2 linked regions of the Homo sapiens genome follow. The protein of the gene in region 2 interacts with the protein of the main gene of each other region in a biochemical or structural test. Each region holds a gene or a part of one and is shown on either strand. Other genes may lie near its edges.

Region 1 (3,600 bases), on a different chromosome or scaffold from region 2:
AGGGATTTTTACATTGGGCCAAATATCTAACCATTCTTCCTTCTACCATTTAAAATGCATTAAATATTTTGTTTCAAAAGTTATCTATCCATCCAGCATATTTTTTTAACCCTCAACAACTGTTTAAAACATCTCTTCAGTATAAAAAGCATACAACCTCCTCCAGCATCCTGATTTTTAGTAAGAAATCTTTTTTAAGATACTTGCATACTACTCCCCAAACAGTTTTCTCAAGTACCTATCTGGTCAAACTAGTTCTTGCCAATTTTCAAAGCATAAAAGTTAAATTTATCATTCTCAAGTTCCTTTTTTGGCTACTACCTTCATCTCTTGGTGTTAACAAACCTTGCACTGCTTTTCACTTTGACTTTTCAACTCCATCCCATAGCCCTTTTCTTCTTTCTTTAAAGATCAAACTAATTACTAGAGTCTTGTCTTCTCCAAAGGATACATTCTAAATTAAAAAAAAAAAAATAAATAATGTACTCACTTGTCATCTCTTTCAAGACAATGGACTAAAATGGGCAATATTCCAGATTTTATTAAGTCATCAATTGGTGGATTTCGATCACTGGACAAAAGCTTCCTGTAAGAGATAAAAACACTCCTGTGAAACTTAATAACATACAATATTATGATTAAATATAAATTCATATTTGACAAATATTAACATAAATCTGAATATTTGGTACAAGTGCCTTCTCTGAAATTAACAATTTATATAATGCAACCTTTTCTCTAAATTTATAAAAAGATATACAAATTAAATTTATAGAGATGACAAATAATTAGAAAAATAAGAATGTAGATATGAACCACTTTACTACCTTTTTTTTTTTGAGATGGAGTCTCACTCTGTTGCCCAGGCTAGAGTGCAGTGGCACAGTCTTGGCTCACTGCAAGCTCTGCCTTCTGGGTTCCAGTGATTCTCCTGCCTCAGTCTCCTGAGTAGCTGGGATTACAGGCGTGCGCCACCACACCCAGCTATTTTTGTATTTTTAGTAGAGACGGAGTTTCCTCATGTTTGCCAGGCTGGTCTTGAACTCCTGACTTCAGGTGATCCACCCGTCTTGGCCTCCCAAAGTGCTGGGATTACCGGCGTGAGCCACGGAGCCTGGCCACTTTACTACTTTTAATGGTACAACATTATTATTCCCTCAGTAAAGTCCTGATTGTGACTTATAAAAAGAAAACTAATTTTTAAAAAATACATGTTACTTTTGGACATAATTTTGAGTTCAGAGAAAAAAATGGGCAGATTTCTTCAACACAGCTTTTACCTTGCTAAGAAAGGAATTAAGAGGTCACCAAAATATCCAAAATTATTCACACTAGGTCACAAGAGAGTCAAATGACAAAAGCAGGTAGTCTGCTGAAATATGTTATAGCTGATATTAGTCCCTAATTCTTCCTTCTACTTTACACACCAAATTTAAGGCCATAAAAGTTCAACAACATTTTCATCTCAGCAACTAAAGAGAAATGGAATAAGCACAGCAACTGATAGGAAAACAGCCAGAGAGATGCTAGAGAATCTGAGGTAAAAAAGACAGACACATCACTGCTCTCATGGAGCTTATAAGATAAAAACAAAACCTAGTGTCTATTTTCACATGTGGGAGACTACAGGTTTAGCTGATAAGTCCTCAGTGTGGCCTAATCATATCTTTACCCACTGGAACACCCTGTATTACTATATAAAAGCAATGTTTATGAAAGCTTAACCAAATCATTTCCCTATATAAACTATGTGATGGCTGCTTATTTACTACCTTTATCAATGTAAACTCCTTGACCTAGCTTTAAACTACTTCACAAGTTGGCTCCATCTTATAACTAATCTTATTCTGTGTAACTAAACAATAGGTTAGTTGTCTGTCACAGCATTTCAACTGAAATAAGACTGAACCTATCCTAAACCCCTCACTTGAAATGCCCGGTCTTCTATGTATTCAAACTCTATTCAAAGTCCATTTCAAGTTCTATGTTTTACATAACACCATCTTTGAATTTCAAGAGGATTTATACAGCATAGCCCTACGTTTGGTGCTATCACTACTTATTTTTTTTGAGACAGGGTCTCAGTCTGTCACTCAGGCTGGAGTGCAGTGGTGCCACCTTGGCTCACTACAACCTCTGCTTCCCAGGTTCGAGCAATTCTCCCACCTCAGCCTCCCAAGTAGCTGGGATTACAGGCATGTGACACTACACCCAGCCAACTTTTATATTTTTAGTAGAGACGGGGGTTTCACCATGCTGGCCAGGCTGGTCTCAAACTCCTGACCTCAAGTGATCCCCTGGCCTCGGCGTCCCAAACTGCTGGGATTACAGGCGTTAAGCCACCGCGCCCAGCCCCCTATTTTTTAAAATACAGTTTTGCCTTTCCAATTAGCTTATAAAGTTCTTAAAGAGAAAGAATTATACCACATGCTATTTCCTCAACACATGGCACAGTGCTTAGCATTAAGTGGAAATTTAAAAAAAAAAAAAAAACCACTTCGAAGAAGTCTTAACCCAGCCTTCTCAAACAAGGTTTCATGAGATCAAGGGTCAAAATTTAATTTAAAAAATTTTTTTTACACTTCACTGAGGATATTTTAGAAGAGAAATGTCTTTTATTCTTTACATAATGGTGAATAATATAATTTTTACAAAATATAATATAAAACCAGTTTGGTGCCACTGTCTTGATTTGCATTAAGGAGCCCGCAATTTTACTCACAGTTGCTTTGCAATACCAGTGTAAACATTAACACAGTGAAAAAAAGGCAAATGAAGTCTTAGAATTATTTTGAAAATCAGTTTGCTCTTGCATACCCATGAAATTGTCTTGGAATCTCCCAGTGATCCACAGATCATACTTTGAAAACCTCTTAGGGTACACTGGGCTTTAATTTTCTTGCAGATTGCATGTTGAGAAGAACTGTCCCAAAACTATCCAATATTCAACTCTGACAATGGTGAGCATAATCGATTTCTTAATCATTCTTCCTATAAACATTAATTTGCTATTTTGCAATGTGAATGGTTCTGAGATTTTTCTGCCTACATAAAGAATTCCTCTCTAAGAAGTTCTTTTACCTCTGGTACACAATACTGTAATTTTATAACTTCCCTATCAGTTCTAAGTTATTTAAGGTGAATAAACAAATACTGGAAAAGTCTAATAAATATAAAACAGATTCGTGCAGCACTGGATAAGGTATTGGATAGACCTACAAACTTTTTCCACTTTCAAATTCTGTAACTAGGATCAGTTTCTTACTTGTCTCTTTCCTACTGATAAACTCAACATAGGGTGTTATTCTTATATTCATAAATATACAAAGCAACCACTAAATTGCATTATGATACAACCATGTCTTCCCCAACCTATTTATTAATACAAAGGTCTCAGTAATAGATTTTTCTGCCTCTTCCCTTAAAATATGAGAGCATAGGTTTTACAATAGAAATGTGCAAAACAGGCAGGGTATGGTGGTTCACGCCTGTAATCCCAGCACTTTGGGAGGCTGAGGCAGGTGGATCACAAGGTCAGGAGTTCAAGACCAGCCTGGCCAAGATGGTGAAACCCTGTCTCTACTAAAAATACAAAAATTA
Region 2 (3,946 bases):
GCCTTGGCCTCCCAAAGTGCTGGGATTACAGGCGTGAGCCACCCCACCCAGCCAGCTTATACGTTCTTTCAACTCTGAGAAAGCATTAAAAGAGTGCAAGTACTGAATGCACGTAGTACTAAACAATTTAGGAGAACTCTTGAAAACAAGGTCTACAATGCTCACTCAGCTAGCTGCAAACTAATTTTTATTAAAAACATTAACGCTATTAACTACCCAAAAAGGTCATTAAAATACAGACAAAACCTACACACTAGACCAATGATTTAAGATCCCTTTAAGTTGCATATTTGGCTCCATTTTTTAAATAAACTGACTCGGCAAGTAGTTAACGTGCCTGTACCTCCACTATTCTATTCGCCTTAGGAAAGTATGAAGCTCAACTTAATCCTAAAAAACTCCTTCACATAAGAGCTACCTTTTGCCTTGACTTTCTTTATGACCTTGGGCAAAGTCTACCAAATGAGGATTATAATAATGTTTGTGTGTTCCTGTTTATTATTGAAAATTAACCATAACATCGTGCAAACAATAGTGAAATTCTCTAAACTGGACCTATCCAGAACTGAAAACCTGAGTTATAAATATCAACTGATATTCAATGTGAACAGTTTTTAAAATTTTAATTTGATTAGTGAAAACAAAAAAACCTACAAAGATCCCAAATTCAACATGATTAATAAATTCCGAAAACACCAACAGCCTCCTTATTACTTCTCTTTATGAACAATTGGTCTGCAATGTAATTTAAAAAAAAGGAAAGAAAAAGTAAAGAAATATAGTAAAACTAGCTTTAACACGCCATTTCCCTTTTCTAAGAATAAAAAATGGACCAGGAACGAAAATTTAAAACTGGGCGAAGAATGGGGAGACAAAGCAATCTACAATTTGAAAATTACACAGATAAATCCATCATTTCAAGTCACTAATTTGTATACCCACTGAAGAAATTCATCTTGGTACTGCGTTACCAGCATTAGGAAGATAAATCCCTGCCTCGGAGGAACATCTACTGAGTACGTTTCATTTCAGGATCTCAGGTAAGTTTACGAGCTCTTAGATCTCTTTAGGTTTCCCTAAGGTACGCTGAAGTGTTTAACATCATTCACACATCCAGCCACCACTAGGGTGAGAAGTAAATAAACAAGATTTACTTATGCAATTATTTACCACAGAACTCTGGTCAAGAATGCAAAAGTAAACACCCATACAGACATTTAAAATCCAAAGAAAGCAGAGAATATTAAGGATAATAAGGTTCACTCTTTAACTGACCACTGTGGAAACCAGACGCCTTCCACATGGACTGTTCTTTACTACCACTCCCGATTTGAAAAAGTAACAATGTCAACTCGAGATTTTAACAGTACAAAAGATAAACAGAACTTAGTCAAATCCCTTCTTCCAGATTCTGAAAAGGTGTTTATAAGAACTGAGATAAGAGCAACGCCCCCCTAAAAGCACCCTACTCCAAAGAATGAAATGCTGAAAACATGAGGTGGGCCAAAAAGGTTAAAAAAAGCTAAACTTCTAACTTAATTACCCAGAGGTTGGGGACTAGGAACTTGAGATCGGAGTGGGGGTGGGTAGCAAAGTGAAATCTAACCCCAGAAATCACAACGCAGGCCGCAACCTAAGAGGTGAAGCTGGCGGGAAGTGAGCTCCCTTTCTGTTCCCAGGGGAAAGTCCAGACAGGAGCGGCTCCGCACAGTGGACGTACGAGGCGCCAAAGAGTGCATGCCTACCAAGGCGCCAGAGCCGCTGGAGGACCAGGTTTAGAAGGGGAGGAGATCCCGGCAGACGGCCCTGGAAGAGGAGGAGGACTGAGATTGGAAGCAGCGGCGGCGTCTGGACGAAGGGGATTACCTAACTGTGACGACAGAGAAGTGTCCTCAGGCTCCGGCGATGGTCCCGACTGCGCAATGTGTGGTGTCTTTCCCGCTTACCCCGCAGCAGCAACAGAACCAGCTCCTTCAGCCAGTCGCCATTTCCCGCCTACCGACCTGCTGCACCGCACGGACAGGGACCCGGATGGAAAGCGGCCTCTCCGCGCAGGCGCCCTGACTTCCTCCTCCCCCTCCCGCCACAATTCCGCGAGGTGGGAGGGAAGGAATGCGGGCAGCCACAACGGCAACAACAACCAAAAAAACACTTTTACTTCCGTGAAGAGCGTTGAAGTTCCTTACGCCGGAAGAAACTCTCTAGTCTGAATCCTGGAGAAAAACTGAACACAAGGCCTTAGTACTGGGTCGATTAAGAAAGGACAAAACCTATCAGGATGAGCAAGGGCCTGGGGGATATTTGTACATTAGGGGCCTCCGTAGCCGGCTGTGTAGTGGTCGCAGGGGGAGTAGGGAGTAAAGCGTTAGGAGTGGAGAGGCGGGGACCCGAAGGACGGTTTTTCCTCCCGCTCCTAACGGAACTGCTTGGGCAGAGCTGGGAGGGGGAGCGCGCCCTTGCCCCGGAGGCGGGGCTTAGGAACGCGTAGTGCACCCTGGCGGCTAGGGTTTAGTAACTGTGGGCGCGCTGGGTAGGTGGAGCTGAGGGGATAAGGCGGGACTAACGGCTTGGCGCGCTGGAGGAGGTAGTTCGTAGGGAGAGCTGCCTGAGGCCGGGAGAAAGCGAATCTGGCGCCTTTCCTGGGATTTCGGTGGCCCTTGAAGGTTCCCTTTCCAGCTCATTGCCTAGAGGGCGTAGCAGTCGCTTTTGGATCATAAATATTCATGCCCTTCGACTCAACCCTATGTTGGCGGTGATTCTGCAGGTTGAAAACTCGGATCTTTCAGGCCAGTGGGCTCCCACCTGCGACCCTAGGTCAAAGGACGGTCAGCTCCACAGAGTGAAAATGTATCAGTCCAGAGAATCCAGTTCTAGTGGGGTATCGGAAAACCAAGCCTAGTGTTTGGAAGAACATTTTTCACTGAAACTCCAAGCCACTCTCCTTATTCAATCAAGAAATATTTATTGAAAAAATAACTAGGTGCGACGGGTAAAACAGTGAGCCAGGCAGACACGGATACTGCCTTCCCCAAAGGTAATGATTTTTTTTTTTTTTCGAGACGGAGTCTTCACTCTGTCGCCCAGGATGGAGTGCAGTGGCGCGATCTCGGCTCAAACCTCCACCTCCCGGGTTCAAGCGATTCTTCTGCCTCAGCCCCCCGAGAAGCTGGGATTACAGGCGCGCGCCACCACGACCGGCTAATTTTTGTATTTTTAGTAGAGACGGGGTTTCACCACGTTGGTCAGGCTGGTCTCGTACTCCTGACCTCGTGATCCGCCCGCTTCGGCCTCCCAAAGTGCTGGTATTACAGGCGTGAGCCACCGCGCCCGGCCAAAGATCATAATCTATTGAAGAAGACACCCAAGTAAACAGAATTTAAAAACTGATAAAGCGAATACAAGGATGGCATGATAGGCGTTGTAAAACACATGAGAGTGCCGGCGAGGGGGTCTGGGAAGGTTTCGTAAGATAACATCTGAGACAAAAAGGAGGAGTGTGTGTTGCAGGGGAAGAGTGTCTGGGTAAAGGAAACAACAGACGGAAAAGTCCAAAGATGAGACTGTGTTGAGCCATTGGAGAAGTAGTTCTGTGCGCTAAGAAAAGAGGATGGGAGGGCAGGGGGAAGATGGCAAGAGAGGCTGAGAAGTAAGCAGAAATAACATACCGTTGTGAATCTCATTATTTCGAAGTATGGAGCAGGTGGGTTGTCTTCTGAAAACCTTGTATACTACAGATTCTTCTGTCAGAGTTCATTTGCACCCTAAATCTTCCTAGTGCAAAAATGCTCTGAATGCGACATTTATTGGGAGCTGGTGGTATACACAGCACAGAACTATTAATAGTAACAGTCCACACACACAAAAATAGATTCCTGAAAAGTTCAATGGAATCCAACAAATAATTAGTTTATCCAGAGTGTATCATGGAAAGCAGTAAAATACCAAC

The links. Proteins that work in one complex are often made in the same cells at the same time.
Region 1: the proteins of CTDSPL2 (region 2) and KPNA4 interact in a test that uses a peptide from one of them, tested with the Homo sapiens proteins (one study listed by BioGRID).

The regions. Positions count from the first base shown.
Region 1 is NC_000003.12:160,530,972-160,534,571, forward strand, and holds part of KPNA4 (importin subunit alpha-3), read right to left. Parts: intron 587-3,600; coding exon 491-586; intron 1-490. UniProt on the Homo sapiens protein: Functions in nuclear protein import as an adapter protein for nuclear receptor KPNB1. Binds specifically and directly to substrates containing either a simple or bipartite NLS motif.
Region 2 is NC_000015.10:44,425,693-44,429,638, reverse strand, and holds the start of CTDSPL2 (CTD small phosphatase-like protein 2), read right to left. Parts: upstream 2,011-3,946; 5' UTR 1,867-2,010; exon of another isoform or gene 1,746-1,866; intron 1-1,745. UniProt on the Homo sapiens protein: Probable phosphatase.